Homo sapiens: one gene and its partner. The protein of the gene in region 1 purifies or fractionates together with the protein of each later gene. This does not show direct contact. Each region holds a gene or a part of one and is shown in the gene's direction. Other genes may lie near its edges. The genes, in order: FERD3L and USP19.

The links.
Region 2: the proteins of FERD3L (region 1) and USP19 purify together in Homo sapiens (affinity purification with mass spectrometry; 2 studies listed by BioGRID and IntAct, with this or other methods). This does not show direct contact.

Annotation. Positions count from the first base shown.
Region 1 is NC_000007.14:19,142,089-19,152,069, reverse strand, and holds FERD3L (fer3-like protein), read left to right. Parts: upstream 1-6,648; 5' UTR 6,649-6,707; coding exon 6,708-7,208; 3' UTR 7,209-7,288; downstream 7,289-9,981. UniProt on the Homo sapiens protein: Transcription factor that binds to the E-box and functions as inhibitor of transcription. DNA binding requires dimerization with an E protein. Inhibits transcription activation by ASCL1/MASH1 by sequestering E proteins.
Region 2 is NC_000003.12:49,110,781-49,120,719, reverse strand, and holds part of USP19 (ubiquitin carboxyl-terminal hydrolase 19), read left to right. Parts: exon of another isoform or gene 1-252; intron 253-1,438; 5' UTR 1,439-1,574; coding exon 1,575-1,698; intron 1,699-2,599; coding exon 2,600-2,773; intron 2,774-2,889; coding exon 2,890-3,063; intron 3,064-3,149; coding exon 3,150-3,283; intron 3,284-3,358; coding exon 3,359-3,661; intron 3,662-3,776; coding exon 3,777-3,993; coding exon of another isoform or gene 3,994-3,999; intron 4,000-4,112; coding exon 4,113-4,269; intron 4,270-4,368; coding exon 4,369-4,440; intron 4,441-4,557; coding exon 4,558-4,673; intron 4,674-4,775; coding exon 4,776-4,996; intron 4,997-5,080; coding exon 5,081-5,276; intron 5,277-5,358; coding exon 5,359-5,492; intron 5,493-5,602; coding exon 5,603-5,761; intron 5,762-5,846; coding exon 5,847-5,957; intron 5,958-6,435; coding exon 6,436-6,546; intron 6,547-6,626; coding exon 6,627-6,728; intron 6,729-8,090; coding exon 8,091-8,231; intron 8,232-8,317; coding exon 8,318-8,436; intron 8,437-8,671; and 9 more. UniProt on the Homo sapiens protein: Deubiquitinating enzyme that regulates the degradation of various proteins by removing ubiquitin moieties, thereby preventing their proteasomal degradation. Stabilizes RNF123, which promotes CDKN1B degradation and contributes to cell proliferation.

The DNA of each region.
Region 1 (9,981 bases):
GAAAAAAAGAAAAAGATTTACAACATAGGATTTGGCAGTGATTTCTTAGATATGATACCAAAGGCCCAAGCAAAAAGAAAATATAGACAAATTGGACTTCATGAAAATGTAAAACTTTTGCGCATCAAAAGACACCATTAATAGAGTAAAAAGACAACTTATAGAGTGAGAAAAGTATTTGCAAATCATGTATCTGATAAAAGATTGATATCCAGGATATATAGAGAACATTTTCACTTACATATACATAAAGAAACAATTATTATTTTTCTCAGAATACTTTTCAGATGTATACAAGGTTTCAAAATGTATAACACATAGAATGAGTCATAGAAAATTTTTATCCAGTAAAGTTCTTGGAAAAAAAAGACACAACCCAATTCAAAAATGAGTGGAAGACCTGAAGAGACATTTCTCAAAAAAAAGATATACAAATAGCCAACAGGCATATAAAAAGATCCTCAACATCACTAATCATTAGGGAAAAGCAAATCAAAGCTGTAATAGGATACAAACTCACACCCATAAAGGTGGCTACTATCTAAACAAACAAACATAAAACAAGTGTTGGTGAGGATATGGAGTAACGGGAGCCTTTGCACAGTGTTGGTGGGAATGTAAAATGGTAGAGCCACTGTGAAAAACAGTTCAGTGGTTCCTCAAAAAATTAAAACTAGACAGCAGCACAAATGAGCCTGAAGGACATTATGTTAAATGAAATAAATCAGGCACAGAAAAATACCACATGGTCTTATTCACATGTAGGTGCCAAAAATGTGGAGCTCATGAAGCAGATAATGGAATTGTGGGTTTTCAGAGTCTTGGAAGGGTAGTGGGAAGGGAGGATAGAAAGAGGTTGGTTAAAGAATACAAAATTATTTTTAAAATTAAAAACAGAGTTACCAAATTATTAGCAATTCCACTTCTGGGGACACATCCAAAAAAATTGAAAGCAGGGTCTCAAAATGATTTGTAGATATCCATGTTTATAGCAGCATTATTCACAATAACTAAAATCTGGAAGCAACCCAAGTGTCCATCATCAGAGGAATGGATAAACAAAGTGTGGCATATACATACAGTGGAATATCATTCAACCCTAAAAAGAAAGGAAATTCTAATGTGTGTTAAAATATAGATGGCTCTTTAGGACATTATGCTAAGTGAAATAAGCCAGTCACAAAAAGACAAATACTGTATAATTCCACTTGTATGAGCTACCCAGAGTAGTCAAATTTAAAGAGACGGAAAGTAGAATGGTGGTTGCCAGGGGCTGAGGAAAGGAGAGAACGAGGAGTTACTTTTTTAATGAATATGGAGTTTTCATTTTATAAAATTAAAAGAGTTCTTGAGATGGATGATGGTGATGCACAATATGATGAATGTATTTAATACCACCGAACTGTACACTTACAAATAGGTAAAGTGATAAATTTTATGTTATATGTATTTTACCGCCATAAAAATTGGAAAAAATATAAATGAATTTTTTCTTTTTTTTGAGACGGAGTCTCACTCTCACCTAGACTGGTGTGCAGTGGTGTGATCTCGGCTCACTGCAAGCTCCGCCTCCCAGGTTCACGCCATTCTCCTGCCTCAGCCTCACGAGTAGCTGGGACTACAGGCGCCCGCTACCATGCCAGGCTAATTTTTTTGTATTTTTAGTAGAGACGGAGTTTCACCGTGTTAGCCAGGATGGTCTCGATCCCTGACCTCGTGATCCGCCCGCCTCGGCCTCCCAAAGTGCTCGGTTTACAGGCGTGAGCCACCGCGCCCGGCCTGAAATTTTTAAATATACCATAAAGAGAGTCAAAAGGAAAGCCACAGAGTTGGGAGAAGATATTTACATTACATACGTCTGACATGGAACTTATACCCAGAATATTCGTACAAATCAATTTTTTAAATTAGAAAAATCCAATAAACAGTGGAGCAGTACTTTATTAAAGAGTCAGTAACTAATCGGCTAACAAGAAATGGTGCTCAATTTTACTTATCATCAGGGAAATGTAAATTAAAACTGAAATGTGATACCCATACACATCTTTAAAACAGCTTAAATTAAAAAGATAGAAAATGGCAAGTATTGGCGAGGATGTGAAGAAATTGGAACTCCAATATATCATTTGTGACAGTGTAAATTATTACAACCATTTTGGAAAACAATTTTATAGTAACCACTAAAACTGAACATATGCATAATCTATTCCAATTCCAGGTGTATCCCAAACAGGAAAGGATAAATGTACTCACAAAAAGATATGTACAATAACCTCTATGACACTGCTATTTGTAGTAACTAAAAATTGGAAACTATCCAAATGTCCACCAACAAGAAAAGGAAAGAACAAATAAATAGTGGTATATTTACACAGTGAAATATTATTCAACAATGAGAATATGCACAAATTGCATAAATAAAATATTGACTGAAAGACACAATAGTATACAGAATATAATTTATTTTTATAGATTATGCATATGCTCACTTTGTGAAACAGTCTCAAGCTATAAACTTAACTGTTCTTACATTACCTCAAACTTCAAAAAGGCATTCCATTTCTTGATTTGGGCACTGGTTTCATGGATACATTCACTTTGAAAATTCATGAAGCTGCATGTATATAATTTGCGAATTTTAAAGTACATACACTGAGCTTCAAAAAAGTTTACCTAAAATATGAAATGAAAAAAGCAAAATAAATGGATATATATTCTTCTATCTCTAAAACCAGCCGTGGTCACAACCATACATAATTTGAAATTGAATAGGAAGAAGACACTGGTCCCTTCTCCAGGTCAGCGGAAGGAGTACTTCTTATGCCTTTCTCCTACAATCATCACAGACATCTAGCTTCGTCATATCTTTATCATTTGCCCTAAAAGTTAATGTTTCTGGAATAAAAGAGGAAGGGACATGAGGAAGGAAAGGTAGGGTTTTTTTAATTGGGGGGATTTATATATTTGCTTTACTCCCTGGATGCTTTATTTATCTACCTTTCTCCCCTTTGCACCATTAAACCCAGGCTTCAGCTCATTCAAGAATTACTGCTTAAGTTATTCTTGGTCATTTTTTTTTCTTTTTGCTTTGATTCTGAACAGTTTAATAGTATAAACAAAATGTTTTATGTCTAATAGGAATGGTCAATAGAAATAAACTAGATAATCAAATAAGCAAAACTGATTGTCATTTCATAATCATTTCTTGAAATATTTTGAGTAAAATTTGTGAGGAGTTATCAAACTTTTTATAAATGCCTCCCTATAGGTCACTGAATAACTGTAAACTATAGGCCTAGAACACAGAGGAATCAAGGTTGAACTTAGCTTCTTTTAATCCTCAATTGAGTTTTTAAAAAACATCTCTCTCTTAACTTTCAAATCTAGAAATGAAAATAATGATTCCTTCCAATAGGATGAACTGTAACATCACTTGGTACTTTATAAATTTACTGCTTTTGCCATATATATTTACTGTGGAACCAAATACCCACAAAAGTCTTCTAAAAATAAAATGACCATTTCACAATAAGCAGAGAAAAAGAATTTCAGTTATTCCTATAATTAATTATAATTATAAATGAAATAACTGTAACTGTTAATTTATATAACTAATTATAATTATAAATAAAAACACTCATAACTTAGATTTTAACATTTTTTGCTTTAATTATATTAGCATGATTATAACCTTGTAAGATAAACAGAAATTAAGGTGGTATAAACAGAAGTGTTTATCCTGGGATTTTTATGATGAAATAAAAAAGAAAATATTTTAAAATAATTGCTGTAGGTGTACCTATTAGGACATTTAAAAAATTCCTAATACTTTAATACAAGTATTTCAACCCAGTTCTAGGCACTGGTTCCATTACTTTTGCTACAGTTCCTTTTGTGATATGATTATTGAAATCTCCATTCTCTGCCAGCTGCAGTGGCTCAGGCCAGTAATCTCAGCACTTTGGGAGGTCAAGGTGAGAGGACTGGTTGAGGCCTGAGCAAAATAGTTAGACCTCCTCTCTAAAGAACAAAACCTTTAGCTTGATGAGGTGGCCAGTGCCTGCAGTCCTAGGTACTCGGGAGGCTGAGGCAGGAGAGTTGCTTGGGCCCAGGAGTTTGAGGCACAGTAAGCTATGATTGTAGCACTGCGCTCCAGCCTCGATGACTGAGTGAGGCTCTGTTGAAAGAGAGAAGGAGGAAAGAAAAAGAAAGAAAGAAAGAAAGAGAGAAAGAAGAAAGAAAGAAAGAAAGAGAAAGAAAGAAGAAAGAAAGAAAAAGAAAGAAAGAAAGAAAGAAAGAAAGAAAGAAAGAAAGAAAGAAAGAAAGAAAGAAAGAAAGAAAGAAAAAGGAGTAAGGGGGAGGGAGGGAGAGAGGAAGGAAGGAAAGAAAGAAGGAAGGAAGGAAGGAAGGAAGGCAAGCAAGAAAGGTACATTGCCTTGGCTAAAATCATAAAGGAGTTCAGTCCAATGAAACTATCTCTTTAGTCTCATGAAGGCTTCTGACCCCCATTTTATGAAATTTTAAATTTAAATATCAACCATGTTTTCCTTCATTGTTTTCCAGTGTATTATATTGCGAAACTAGATTCTCAATTGACTGAGGTGTTTAATCCACTTGCAAATAGATTGTAAATGAATACAAAATAAGTCACTGAGAAGCATTTAACATAATTTAAAAATCAACAAGAAATTTGTCCAAATATTTAATAACATATTAATTTAAACGAGGGTTAGCAAGCATGTTACTACTTTTTTGAAACAAAAATCAGTTCTCCCATTTACTAGCTTCATAGCCACTGTTGACAATCCTATTATTTATTTTTCAGCCTTCCCTTTGAAAGATGCTTAGCAAAAATCAACTAAGTAACAACCAAAGATCTCATTCTCTTTAACATCTTCCAGGATCACAAATTTCAATTATTCTCTGCCTGAGTTATCACAATTCAAACTGGAGAATGAAGAGTAAACACAAGCAAAAGAAGATAAAATCTATTAAAAGATCGAGAGACACCAGACACAAATGGGTTAAAAGAAGAAGAAGAATTAAAGGTTATACTGTTTTGATTACACACATAGAGGCTAGGAAGAAGAAAATGAATTGAGATTACCTGTTAGAAATAGGCGGTTTCTGGTTTCTGGGAGCTGTCCAATGTACTGAGTGAACCATCATAACCACAACTTACCCCCTTAATAGGGACTGACGTCCTGGGCAGTTCTCTTTTGAACCGGGATGTTTCTACATTCATCTTTTTAGGCTATTTCTTCCAATCTACCTTTAAAATTATCTTCTAATCTGTCACTTTGACACAATGGGTCTTTTAAATAAATCTTTACACAGTACTGAATAATTAAGTAAATATAGTTATTGGCAAACAAAGAAAAAGAACCTTTTTGTTAAAATATTTGGGATACTCGAGATAATATAAAATGAGTAATCTCTTATTTTTCTTATGCCAAATTTAAAATCTCTTTCTTTTCTCAAAAATAACGATCTAACGATAGCCAAAAACTCCCTTAAATATATTTCAATAAATCATTGTTTCTGCACTTAAGTCTTACTGTAGGACAATACAAATCAATGAGGAAAATACGCCAGATGGAAGTGTTAGGTTTTTTTCTTTGTTCGGGAACAAATACTCGATCCGCAATTTAAAAGTCCGAAGACTCCTCAGCAGAGGGTGAGCTGATTGACTCTTTGGCTTATCAAGGGCAAATCGCATTTCTGAAAAGAGCTTGAAGTGGTTTTGTTTGTGAGGAGAGTTTGCTTTGTCCCCCACACTGAAAAGTATACAGCAAAGCCCGAGCATAGAAAATATCCTGAGCTTAAATTTCTCATTTTATTGCCATCATAACTTTTCCTCTTGGAATAAAATCCTCTATTTTATATGAGTAGGAGGTAAAGGTAGGGAAAGGAAAGTCAAGTATCTCAATTGTTACGCTGATTGCATCCAAACAGACTTTAGAAGTCAGGGTTTGTAACGTGGCAGGAGAGCTGTTTGCGATGCCCTGGAAAGAAAAGAAAGCCGGTTCCAACAGCGACTCTGGGGAATGCACTCTCGGTCCCCCTGCCATGCTTACTTAAGCTAATTGAAGGTCTTGCCTTTCAGCAGCCGCTGCACTGGGATACCAGACAAACAGCTCCCCTTGATGCCAGGCAGGCAGGGCCCCTCTTCAGGACATCATTAAAAGCACATGCACTTGCTCCACATCCATTGGCAGATGGTGGCAAGATTCAAGACTCCTACCCTGAAGTCAAGGAGAAGCCATCGCGGTGGAAAACATCCTCGCTTTGAAAATCCAACACGAAATTAAAGAACTACACGAGATAAGGAGCCTGGAGAACATTAGTTGGCTGCAGGGGTGAAGACAGACACAAAAAGCACAGCAGGTAAGAGCTGGGGGTTGTTGCCAACAAGGAACTGTCCCGGGTGGCGCAGAGAAAAGGATCTCAGAACTGGAGCCCTGTCCCTTTGAGTCTTCCATGCGTGCTCAAGCTTGTCATCTTCCATAAGCTTCGAGAGAAGGGACGTTGTCAGAGCATTCCTTATCGGTGCGACTAATCCTGTTATCAGCTTGGTTATAAATATTTAATGTTCCCTGGCCTTTCGGTGATGGTGCCCCATCAGATTCAAGGCTGTTAAGAATCCCCACCAGCAACCTCGCCCCTCCCTGCGGAAAACCGATGAGAGGCAGGGCCAAGCCGAAGCGATGGCGGCCTATCCGGAGAGCTGCGTGGACACTACGGTGCTGGACTTCGTCGCAGACCTGTCCCTGGCCTCCCCGAGACGCCCTCTCCTCTGCGACTTCGCACCCGGGGTCTCCTTGGGGGACCCAGCCCTTGCGCTCCGAGAGGGAAGACCCAGGAGGATGGCGCGGTTTGAAGAGGGGGACCCAGAAGAAGAGGAGTGCGAAGTGGACCAGGGGGACGGAGAAGAGGAGGAGGAAGAGGAGCGCGGAAGAGGTGTCTCCCTATTAGGCCGCCCCAAGAGGAAAAGGGTGATCACCTACGCCCAGCGCCAGGCCGCCAACATCCGCGAAAGGAAGCGGATGTTCAACCTCAACGAGGCCTTTGACCAGCTGCGGAGGAAGGTGCCCACGTTTGCTTACGAGAAAAGGCTGTCCCGGATCGAGACCCTCCGCCTGGCCATCGTCTATATCTCCTTCATGACCGAGCTCTTGGAGAGCTGTGAGAAGAAGGAAAGCGGCTGAGCCTGGTGTGGAGAGTCTGCCCTTCCTCGTCTGGTAGTGCTGGGGTGTGTCAGGACCGGGCACTGGGTGAGGCTAAAGGGCCGGGAGGGAGGCCCCAAGACAGAACGTCTGGTCTTCTGGAGGTCGGGGTCGAGATTGTAAGATCCCCACATGCGCTGAGCAGAGTGGCTGCTGTAGAGTTCATATCTACGCGACCGCCCTAAGTGAAGTCGGGGTCAGGGGCGAGCGGGGAAGTCAGAGAGCGTGAGGCTGAGTCGGGGCCGTTCAGGCTGCTCCTAAGAGCTTCCGTGGGCTGGGTGGGTGGGAAGTGAACCCTCCTCGCAAATGGCAGACTTTGGAGCTTCTATAAAATCTAACCTCTCTTCTTTACATTTTTTTTTTCATAGAGATAATAAAGTAGAAATTCTTACGTTTTTAAAAAGCCTGAAGGGTCGGTGGTACGCCATCCCCAGCAGGCGCTCCAGCGGGCGCCTGCGTGGAGGGTCTGAAGCAGACGCCGCAAGGGTGCGGGGGTGCGAGCTTTTCTGCTAGCCAGAGGGTTCTGCCTGGTCCTCCGAGGCTTGTCCAGGAACTGAGGAAAGGAAAAATGGAAGGCAGAGCAGTCGAGAGGAACTGCTGACAAAGTGCGACCTCTGAGAAGGGACACCCTTCCTGTCTTCCATTCCCTCTCCCTCCCGTCCCTTCCTCTCTCCCGCGCGCAAGCCCTCTCTCTTCCTTTCTCCCTCCCCTTCGCCACCTAGTTGATCCCAGACGGACCACAGCTCCTTGTCCCAGGGCCACAGTGGTGTTCATTCAGTGCCTTAGCCAGAGTGCAAATCTACGCTTTGCATCTAAAGTGCAGCATCAGCTTCCGTGTTCCAGTGCCTTCTTCAGGCCCCAGGCCAGAGTAAGGGGCGAGTGCACTCGGGTCACTCCTGGGCCGCAGGGGGCCTTGGGCGCCCTGCAGCTTCGCCACCAGCCACCGCTACCAACTGTCCCCGGCCAGGGGTTGGGGTATGAAGGGGCCTGGATCTTTCTAGGAGCAGGGCCGCCTGAGCGCGCTCACTTTTACATTTTTAGCTGTAGGTAGGAAAGATAGCTTTCACTCTAATGGCTTCTAGAGACTACCAGGGGAGACAAAAAGTCCAAAGAGGAGATGCCTTCTGACGCCTTGCAAAACGCCTGCCATGCAGATGAGGTTGAAGCGGGTCCATGCTGAGAGGCCGCCTCTAGTTTGGACCCGTGCCATTCCAGGATTCTTCCTTCTAGGTGACGTGCTAGTACCAGAACTGGGGTCTTTCAGAAAGGAGTGGGTAACTGAGGCGAGGAACCCGATTGAATAATGCCAACCTAAACATAAATTCAGTAATCCTAAAGGATAATCCCCAGTGATTATTCCAACACTTTATTTCGCCCCTCATTGCACACAGAAATAGGCGGGAGCCTGTGCGAACACACAATTCTCTTAATCATGCTTTCGGAAATAGAATTCATTTCATTAATAAGTAACATATACTCATCCTAGAAATTTTGGAAAAAAAAATTTCAAAAAAGAGAAAATTCGAATCACTCCACGTTACCATACTGTTAGCATTTTCATCTATTTCTTTCCAGTCTTTTTTTCCCTGTGCAGTTATAAATTCAATATATTTTACTAATTCGAGATACTTTGGGATACTGATATTTTTCCACTTGGCATTATAGAAGGTGCAATGTTTTCCCTTAACTTTAATATTATTCAAATGTGATTTTGATTACCATATCTTATTGTCTTATCCATGTATCACACCACCACCAGCCCTTTCCAGATAGATAGCTATTTCCTTTTTAAAAAATAAATGATGCTGCTAAGAGCATTCTTGTAAATGCCTTCTCTGTCTATTATTACTTCCTAACATTTGATACCTAGAAGTGAAATTTCTGGATTCAAGTTTGTGGATATAAATGGCCAGATTCCCTTCTTGGTGGGTTCTGCCAGTTCACTCTCCCACCCTCTAGCATTGCAGGGATTTGCCTGTTTCCCAGCCCCTTCATTAGTACTTCGAATATTTAAAACTTTTCTTAGTTTTCCTTTTCATAGGACCTGGATTAGTTCTGAAACGAGCCCCCACTCCCAAGATGTTTTTTTACTTTTACTGTGTCTTTCCACCAAGAATTTTTTCAACTGCACCGTAAGAACATCAGGATAAACAGGTAAACAAAAAAAAAATACATAAACAGCTAACACCAAACAACAACAAAGCCCCATAGAGTGTTGTTTTTTCTTATTCTTCCACCAATTCAATTTCTCCTGGAAATTAAACATCATTCTTTTTTAAAAAATCATCTGAAAGTGTTGAATAAATAAAAAGAAAAAAAAGTAATTCCAATCTAGGAATTCTTAATATTTTGCTGAAAGAACAAGTTTTGAAAACCAGAAATAAAGCAAAATTGTGTAGACCAGGGACCATCAACATTCCTAAGTCGTGAGGAGTCAGCACAGCCACCCGTTTTCGTTAGTCTTCTCCATCATATTCTAATACATTTTGTTCCTAGAAAGCAAATAATATTCCTCCAGTGAATACCTCTTCATCATAGTAAATGATACCTAAAAAACTTCTAAATTAAAAGTTATTTTCTTATTATCAACAGAGGAATTATCCACCCTTCTTAAAAAAAAAAACTTTAATCGTTTATAAATGCTTTGCTATTTGTAAGTTTACATGTTTAGGAACTGCCTCAAATGTAGTCTTTTAAGATATTTTCATAATAATTTTACTCAGAGTAATTTGAACCCAGGTAAGGATCAGAGTCA
Region 2 (9,939 bases), on another chromosome or scaffold:
CAGCGGGGAGGCCGCAACGCGCGGCCGCGGCGGCCTGTTCAAGGTCACGGGCCGTGCCAGTCCCTACCCCTAGTGCCCCGCAGCGTGCCAGCCCACTGATGCCGGCAGGGCCGTTACGCTATGCCTGTGGCCAGCCTCCCACCTGGGAGAGGACTGGCGGCCAGCGAGGGCAACTTCGTGGGAGAGGTGGTGGCGGGCTCGGGGTTCAGAGGCTGAAGCTGGGTCGCAGCTCGACCGGGGCGCTGATCTGTGGTCAGTAACCCCGCGCTGCCATTTCAGGCCGGCTCGGGTCTCTAAACAGCCCCTTACCCGCCTCGACGTCCCTGGGGCATGGGGGAGGGACGCGACCTTCGGCTGGGGCCTGGGTGCAAGAAGGAGGCGCCGGTGGCAGGTGTCATTAAAGATCCAGCCCACCAGTACCACATCTGACCTGTAGAAGGGTATCCTGCCATCCCTCCTTCCTCCTTTACACACTTAGGGGAACACAGACTAGTCATTATCTGTCCTGCTACTGGTTCAGGCCAGGCTTGAGGCTGCCAGGAGTCCTGGATCTGTGGTCCTCCCCAGCCTCATCTCAGTATCTAGTTTCAAGACCTTCATTTTGGAGGAGGAAACAGTCCAGAATCCACTGGTGGGTCTGTGGGAAACTGTAGTGGTCCTTGTGGCTCAGAGCTCATGAGTGAAGGCATCTGGGAAGGAAGGTGATAATTTCTGTTCCAGTCTCAAACTGGATGCCCATCCTGCCTTAGTACTGGAGCAGGGTTGCTGCTGAAGAGGTAGCGTGACATCTAGATACACTTTTCAGTCCCTTTCTGCTTGGGACAGCAGCTGGGGAGAGGACTTTCTCTTGAAATGAAGAAGGACCAAGCAGTACATAGGAGCAGGTTCTTGCCAAGGGTGGGAGCTGGCAGGAGGCAGGTGGAGTGCCTTAGCCCCAGGACTTTTTCTGGGCAATGGTAGAACCTGGGTTGAGCCTGTTTACAGCCACAGAGCCTGGTTCTCCTGCGGCTTGTCTCCTGTCCTGCCTTCCTCCTCCACCTTCTATTTCTCCAGTGGTGACTAAGCAGCCAGTGAGAGTGAAGGAAAAGTGAGCACCCTGCTCGGAGTGCCAGCCCTGTGGGCTGGAGCCGTGGCTCCTCTCCAGATTGGTGGAGTAGCCTGGTCCCAGGCCATGACTTCCTTGACCTGGTGCCCCCTCAGTGAGGCTTTCACCTGTGTGGGACTGTTATGGTGGGTATCTATGAGGCTTGGCCAGAAGTGGTTGCTGCTACTTGCATTATTTATTACCTCTTCAGAATATCCTGAGAGTGTCCAGGGGTACTTAAGAGATGAGAAGATACAGCTCTGTAGCATTAGTGTCCTGTGTTGCTGAGCCCTGGGTGTAGCTAAAGAGCAAGTTGTTGGGTCTTGGCAGTGATCACTGGCTTCTTTCCATTAGGCTGTCCGTTCCTTGCTGGAGAATTTGGCCACAAAGAGTTGCCAAGATAGCTGGGCCAGGAAGAAAGCGCCGCAGCCCTGACCCAGACGCTGTTGCCGACCCCGGGGCACTCTGGCTGTCGACCAAGCGGCTCAAGATGTCTGGCGGGGCCAGTGCCACAGGCCCAAGGAGAGGGCCCCCAGGACTGGAGGACACCACTAGTAAGAAGAAGCAGAAGGATCGAGCAAACCAGGAGAGCAAGGATGGAGATCCTAGGAAAGGTGGGAGTGGCATTCCCAGAGTAATTGTGGCCTTCTCTGCCTCCCATCTTATTGGTATACAGATTGGGGTTTGGGAGATGACTTTCTTGTTCTTCTCTCTGTCCTGGTTTGATGATGAGAGAAGAAGGACCCATGATAACCTCAGTAGAGCCTCAGCTTTGAAGCCTGAGTACTTGGCTAAGATCCAGAAGATGGTGCTGTTGGGGGGCTTGCCTTCTTTCCTTTTTAAACTTTTTTCTTTTTTTTGAACCTGTTCTTTTTTTCCTTTTTTTTTTGAGATGGAGTCTCATTCTGTAGCCCAGGCTGGAGTGCAGTGGTGCAATATTGGCTCACTGCAACGTCCACCTCCTGGTTCAGGTGATTGTCCTGCCTCAGCCTCCCAAGTAGCTGGGATTACAGGTGCATGCCACCACGCAAGGCTAATTTTTTTTTTTTTTTTGAGACAATGTCTCACTCTGTCATCCAGGCTAGAGTGTAGTGGCGTCTTGGCTCACTGCGGGCTCTGCCTCCCGGGTTCAAGTGATTCTGCTGCCTCAGCCTCCCAAGTAGCCTCAGCCTCCCAAGTAGCTGGGATTACAGGTATGCACCACCACACTCAGCTAATTTTTGTATTTTTAGTAGAGACGGGGTTTCACCATGTTGGCCAGACTGGTCACAAACTCCTGACCTCAGGTGATCCACCCACCTCGGCCTCTCAAAGTGCTGGGATTGCAGGCGTGAACCACCGTGCCTGTCCCTTTTTTTTTTTTTTTTTTAAAGGCAGGGTCTCACTCTTGCACAGATTGGAGTGCAGTGCAGGTGTGATCGTAGCTTACTGCATCCTCAAAGTCCTGGGCTCAAGCAGTCCTCCTACCTCAGCCTCCTCACCATGCTTGACTAATTTTTCTTATTTTTTTTTTAGAGACAGGGTCTCGATATGTTGCCCAGGCTGGTCTTGAACCTCTGGCCTCAGGTGATCCTTCTGCCTCAGCCTCCCATGCAGCTGGGATCACAGGCTCACGCCACCGTACCCGGCTGTTCTTTCCTTCATCGTCAGGGTCAGCATCCACTCCTCAAGAGGAGCAGACCAAAGAGGGTCAGTAACGAATGGGCTTTTTGTTGCTAGGGAAGGGGAGGGGGCACTTGCAATTTGGCTCCCATCTGAAGCAGTTTCATTAGGCTGGGTCTCTGTTACCTGCTTATCACCATCAGGAGCTTGTGAAGACCCTCATGATCTCTTGGCTACTCCCACTCCAGAGTTGTTGCTCGATTGGAGGCAGAGTGCAGAAGAGGTGATTGTCAAGCTTCGTGTGGGAGTAGGTCCCCTGCAGCTGGAGGATGTAGATGCTGCTTTCACAGATACAGACTGTGTGGTGCGGTTTGCAGGTGTGTCCATCTGCCCTGAGCACAGTAGTATGTTTGAATCTTCTGATATCTCCTATCCTACCTCATGGACCCTGCTCTGTCCCCAGGTGGTCAGCAGTGGGGTGGTGTCTTCTATGCTGAGATAAAAAGCTCTTGTGCTAAAGTGCAAACCCGCAAGGGCAGTCTCCTGCACCTGACACTGCCCAAAAAGGTGCCTATGCTCACGTGGCCCTCCCTCCTGGTGAGTTCTAGTAGTACAGGGTTGGGTAGGGATACCAGTGTAGTCGACAGGGCCTGACTGCTGTATCTTTGGCAGAAGAAACCTCTAGGGACCCAGGAGCTGGTGCCGGGGCTGCGGTGCCAGGAGAATGGGCAGGAACTGTCTCCCATTGCCCTGGAGCCAGGCCCTGAGCCCCACCGGGCTAAGCAGGAGGCCCGGAACCAGAAGCGGGCCCAGGGCCGTGGTGAGGTAGGCGCAGGGGCTGGCCCCGGGGCCCAGGCAGGGCCCAGCGCCAAGAGGGCTGTGCATCTCTGCAGAGGGCCAGAGGGGGACGGGTCCAGGGATGACCCTGGACCCCGGGGTGATGCCCCACCCTTCGTGGCTGACCCAGCCACCCAGGTGAGAGCTGGGCACCTGTTTGGGTGTTAGGAGATGGGGGGAAAGGGTGTGCACTGGAGTGGGAGCCACCTGGCAGACCCAGGGCTGATTCTTTCCACAATCTTGCCATTAATAGGTTGAGGCTGATGAACAGCTTTGCATACCACCGCTGAACTCCCAAACCTGCCTCCTGGGCTCAGAGGAGAATTTAGCCCCTTTGGCAGGAGAGAAAGCAGTGCCTCCCGGGAATGACCCAGTCTCTCCAGCCATGGTCCGGAGCAGAAACCCTGGGAAAGATGACTGTGCCAAGGAGGAGATGGCAGTGGCAGCAGATGCTGCAACCTTGGTGGATGGTAAAGGTGGGGGTGGGCAGGCAGAGCCCTAGGTTGGGTTGCAAAGTTTGTAGGTGGATAGAGAGTAGCAATAGGCTGGAACCTGTCCTGGTTGGGGCTGAGCCATGGTCTCAATATAGAGCCCGAGTCGATGGTGAACCTGGCGTTTGTCAAGAATGACTCGTATGAGAAGGGCCCGGATTCAGTGGTGGTGCACGTGTACGTGAAGGAGATCTGCAGGGACACCTCAAGAGTACTTTTCCGTGAGCAGGACTTCACGCTCATCTTCCAGACCAGGTGGGTGGGTAGATGATGGGGCAAACAATGCCTCAGGTGGGACAGTATGTCTCATGCTCTTCCTCTTGTCCTTCCTCCTATCCTGCTGTGCCTCTGCAGGGATGGAAACTTCCTGAGGCTGCACCCGGGCTGTGGGCCCCACACCACCTTCCGTTGGCAGGTGAAGCTCAGGTGGGTGGTGCCCGGCCCCACCACTGTGCCTGTCCTACCCCGTGGGCTCCATCTCCCTGGCTCATCTATCCTGATGCTCATTCCTCCTAAGTCCCTGAGTTCAGCCTTTTCCCACAGGAATCTGATTGAGCCAGAGCAGTGCACCTTCTGTTTCACGGCTTCTCGCATCGACATCTGCCTTCGTAAGAGGCAGAGTCAGCGCTGGGGGGGCCTGGAGGCCCCGGCTGCACGAGGTCTGCACACGAGCTCCCTTCATTGCCCAGTTCCACGTGACCAGGACCCAAACCCCTGTCACATGCTGCTAACCACCAGCCCTCTCATTCCCCCTTTTTAAGGTGCAGTGGGTGGTGCAAAGGTTGCCGTGCCGACAGGTCCAACCCCTCTGGATTCAACCCCACCAGGAGGTGCTCCCCACCCCCTGACAGGCCAGGAGGAGGCCCGGGCTGTGGAGAAGGATAAATCCAAGGCACGATCTGAGGACACAGGGCTAGACAGTGTGGCAACCCGCACACCCATGGAGCATGTAACCCCAAAGCCAGAGACACACCTGGCCTCGGTGAGAATTCTGGGGTGGGAAGGACGAAGAATGGAGGCTGGAGAGTCTTGGGGCTGTTCTCTCATGTCGTCTTTGCTCCTGCAGCCCAAGCCTACATGCATGGTGCCTCCCATGCCCCACAGCCCAGTTAGTGGAGACAGCGTGGAGGAGGAGGAAGAGGAAGAGAAGAAGGTGTGTCTGCCAGGCTTCACTGGCCTTGTCAATTTAGGCAACACCTGCTTCATGAACAGCGTCATTCAGTCTCTGTCCAACACTCGGGAACTCCGGGACTTCTTCCATGGTGAGGGCAGGGCCTGGAGCCTGGGTTATGGGCAGAGAGAGTGCCTTTGTTCCTCACACCTTTGCTCGGCTACTATTCCTAGACCGCTCCTTTGAGGCTGAGATCAACTACAACAACCCACTAGGGACTGGTGGGCGTCTGGCCATTGGCTTTGCCGTGCTGCTTCGGGCGCTGTGGAAGGGCACCCACCATGCCTTCCAGCCTTCCAAGTTGAAGGTGATCTGTGACCACTGTCACCCTTGGCTGGAGGGGGCGGGGAGGGCCAGCCAGCTGGGTGTGCAGTGGGTGCTAGGGCTTCATGTTCACACCTTGGCTCCTGTATCCAGGCCATTGTGGCGAGTAAGGCCAGCCAGTTCACAGGCTATGCACAGCATGATGCCCAGGAGTTCATGGCTTTCCTGCTGGATGGGCTGCACGAGGACCTGAATCGCATTCAGAACAAGCCCTACACAGAGACCGTGGATTCAGATGGGCGGCCCGATGAGGTCAGGGTTAGGGACAGAGGGTGGGCATGTCTCATGAGCATCCCAGCCCCTGGTACTCTTTGGTTCTCACCACTCTGCCTCTCAGGTGGTAGCTGAGGAAGCATGGCAGCGGCACAAGATGAGGAATGACTCTTTCATCGTGGACCTATTTCAGGGGCAGTACAAGTCGAAGCTGGTGTGCCCTGTGTGTGCCAAGGTGTGATGGGCTCCCCTGGAAAGAGACCCCCTAGTTCAGCTCAGCTATTCTGGTCACATTAGGTTCAGAGGCATGTGCATCTTAAGGTGCTACAGGGCAAGGTTTGGGCAAAGAAGCTGGCAGGGAGGCCTTAGGATTCTATTTGGGCTGAAGAGCCCACTCAGGGTAGGCTTCCTGACTGAGGGAAAAGTGATGTTAGAGCTCAAAGGTGTTGTAGCAGGGTTGTGGGCACATGGGGTGCAAGTGTGAGGCCAATTCGTAAAGTGGCTAAGCTGAGTAGGGCTTTGAGTGCCAGAAAGAAGGATTGTTATTTCCTGGTGGTCCTCCTGCCCTGTCTAGTGTCCTGAAGCCTGAGAGTTTGCTGGTTGGCTGTGGGGGCCCTGAGAGCCATCAGAAGCCCCGGAATGGGCTCTCTGAGCATGAGCATCTTATCTCCCACTCTGTGTGCAGCTACCCAGTGCCACCTCTACATCCACAGGTCTCCATCACTTTTGACCCGTTTCTTTATCTGCCGGTGCCCTTGCCACAAAAGCAAAAGGTTCTCCCTGTCTTTTATTTTGCCCGAGAGCCCCACAGCAAGCCCATCAAGGTGAGGAGTAAGCCCCTACCCTCTGGGCTGTTCTAGAGAACGTGGCCCACCTCCCTCACTGACTGCCCTTTTTGCCACAGTTCCTGGTGAGCGTCAGCAAGGAGAACTCCACTGCGAGCGAAGTATTGGACTCCCTCTCTCAGAGTGTTCATGTGAAGCCTGAGAACCTGCGTTTGGCGGAGGTATCTTTGTCCTTCCTTGGGCTATCACATGTGTGGATGTGTGTGTGTACTCACCACAGACGTGTGTACAGTCATTGGCATCTACAGACATACACATGGGCTGGGCACAGTGGCTCATGCCTGTAGTCCCAGCACTTTGTGAGGCCGAGGTGGGCAGATCACTTGAGCCCAGGAGTTTGGGACCAGCCTGGGCAACTTGGTGAAACACTGTCTCTACAAGAAATAAAATTAGCTGGGCATGGTGGTACGTGTTATAGTCCCAGCTACTTGGGAGGCTGAGGCAAGAGGCTCACTTGAGCCCGGGATGTGGAGGTTGCAGTGAGCAGAGATTGCACCACAGCACTCCAGCCTGGGTGACAGAGTGAGACTCTGTCTCAAAAATAAATAAATAAATAGATAAAAAAATAAAAATAGGGCCAGGCGTGGTGGCTCATGCCTGTAATCCCAGCTCTTTGGGAGGCCAAGGCTGATGGATCACAAGGTCAGGAGATCCAGACCACCCTGGCTTACATGGTGAAACCCCACCTCTACTAAAAATACAGGAAAAGTTAGCCGGGCGTGGTGGCACATGTCTGTAGTCCCAGCTGCTCAGGAGGCTGAGGCAGGAGAATCGCTTGAACCTGGGAGGCAGAGGTTGCAGTGAGCCGAGATCGCGCCACTGCACTCCAGCCTGGGTGACAGAGTGAGACTCTGTCTCAAAAATAAAATAAAATAAAATAAAAATAGACATACACATGAGTATGCCTGTGACTGTACAAAAACAGGCGATGTGCTGTTATTTTTTCTGTGCAACAGAAGTGCCCTCAGTTCCTAGCCATTATCAGGGTTTATTCCCCTTTGTGGTGGTGGATCCCAACTGCATTTCCCTTTTTAGACAAGGAGCTTGAGCTGCAGGACTATCCCTATGTTCGCTCTGCCTCTCCCTCTATCCTGCTGCTCTCTCCTTTTATCCCAGTTGTGTGTGCTAGCTCTCCCCAGGGGTTCCTAGCCTTTAGCCTGACAGTGTTGGTTTTCTTAGGGGTAAGAGTGGGGAGGAGGCTCTTTGAATGTGGACCCTCCATGATAATATGTTACAGTCTTATAAGGCTATGCTAGTTATAGCAGGGCAGAGTCCCTCAGTGTGGAGAGCTGGTGTGGTTGATATCTGCCTCACACCTGGTCTTTCAGGCCCTCTGATGCACCAGGCTCCTTATGGCATTGGGCACTGAGACAGGTGCCAGCAGAGGCATAAGCCTATTTGGGCCTACAGACCTCACCACTGCCCACATAGACCCAAGGCAGGGCCAAGCCTTCTTAAACTCTGGGGCAGGGCTAGGGAAAGGGCTTATCCTCACGTGGGATCTGTGTGTTCTCTGTCCCCAGGTAATTAAGAATCGTTTTCATCGTGTGTTCCTACCCTCCCACTCACTGGACACTGTGTCCCCATCTGATACGCTCCTCTGCTTTGAGCTGCTATCCTCAGAGTTGGCTAAGGAGCGGGTAGTGGTGCTAGAGGTGCAACAGGTGAGTGGGGGCCAACCTGATGGCACAGCGCCCTGGTGGGTGGGGCACTTCTTCCTGGTCTTGCTGAGCCAGACGACCCACCCTAGCGCCCCCAGGTGCCCAGCGTCCCCATCTCCAAGTGTGCAGCCTGCCAGCGGAAGCAACAGTCGGAGGATGAAAAGCTGAAGCGCTGTACCCGGTGCTACCGTGTGGGCTACTGCAACCAGTGAGGACCCCCATGGTCTCCCCTACCCTTTCTTTCCACCTTCCATGTGCCACCCTGCTCCTTCCCTTCACACCAAGGCACATATGCTTAAGCTTTCTACTTGCCACCCTACTTTACCAGGCTCTGGGGGAGGCAGGGCTGGCGTACCCAGTTCCCAGGGACTATGACTAGCCCCCAGTATGGAGTCATAGGAGATGGGGCTAAGGGCCTATCCTTGTCTTCCTCTTCCCGTCAGGCTCTGCCAGAAAACCCACTGGCCTGACCACAAGGGCCTCTGCCGACCTGAGAACATTGGCTACCCCTTCCTGGTCAGTGTACCTGCCTCACGCCTCACTTATGCCCGCCTCGCTCAGTTGCTAGAGGGCTATGCCCGGTAAGTGCCCAGTGGTTGGACTAGAGTGGTGTAGGTGGGGGCAGAGGTGCTAGATGGGCTGGTCAGGAGTCTTACTTGCGTTGTTCTCTGTTGCCAGGTACTCTGTGAGTGTATTCCAGCCACCCTTTCAGCCAGGCCGCATGGCCTTGGAGTCTCAGAGCCCTGGCTGCACCACACTGCTCTCCACAGGTTCCCTGGAGGCTGGGGACAGCGAGAGAGACCCCATTCAGCCACCTGAGCTCCAGCTGGTGACCCCTATGGCTGAGGGGGACACAGGGCTTCCCCGGGTGTGGGCAGCCCCTGACCGGGGTCCTGTGCCCAGCACCAGTGGAATTTCTTCTGAGATGCTGGCCAGTGGGCCCATTGAGGTTGGCTCCTTGCCAGCTGGCGAGAGGGTGTCCCGACCCGAAGGTAAGATCCAGTGAAAGGCTCTAGAAGCTGGGGAGGAGGATAAGGGAGGATGGAGGGGGCTGTTGTTTAGGGCCTGGTGGGCCTGGTGAGGCCCTGATGGGCAGGGAAGCTTTGATTATCATGTTCTCACACAGCTGCTGTGCCTGGGTACCAGCATCCAAGTGAAGCTATGAATGCCCACACACCCCAGTTCTTCATCTATAAAATTGATTCATCCAACCGAGAGCAGCGGCTAGAGGACAAAGGTGTCTGAGGCTGTGGGTGGGAGCCATGGGGTGGGTTGAGCTGGCTGTTCTCCACAGCTGCATGACCTCTCTCCCTGCGAATCTCCAGGAGACACCCCACTGGAGCTGGGTGACGACTGTAGCCTGGCTCTCGTCTGGCGGAACAATGAGCGCTTGCAGGAGTTTGTGTTGGTAGCCTCCAAGGAGCTGGAATGTGCTGAGGATCCAGGCTCTGCCGGTGAGGCTGCCCGGGCCGGCCACTTCACCCTGGACCAGTGCCTCAACCTCTTCACACGGCCTGAGGTGCTGGCACCCGAGGAGGCCTGGTGAGAACAGAGCAGCAAGTAGATAAGGGGGCAGGATGGAGAAGAGAGAGACTTGCTGGTCCTGACCCAATCTCTGTCCCCACCAGGTACTGCCCACAGTGCAAACAGCACCGTGAGGCCTCCAAGCAGCTGTTGCTATGGCGCCTGCCAAATGTTCTCATCGTGCAGC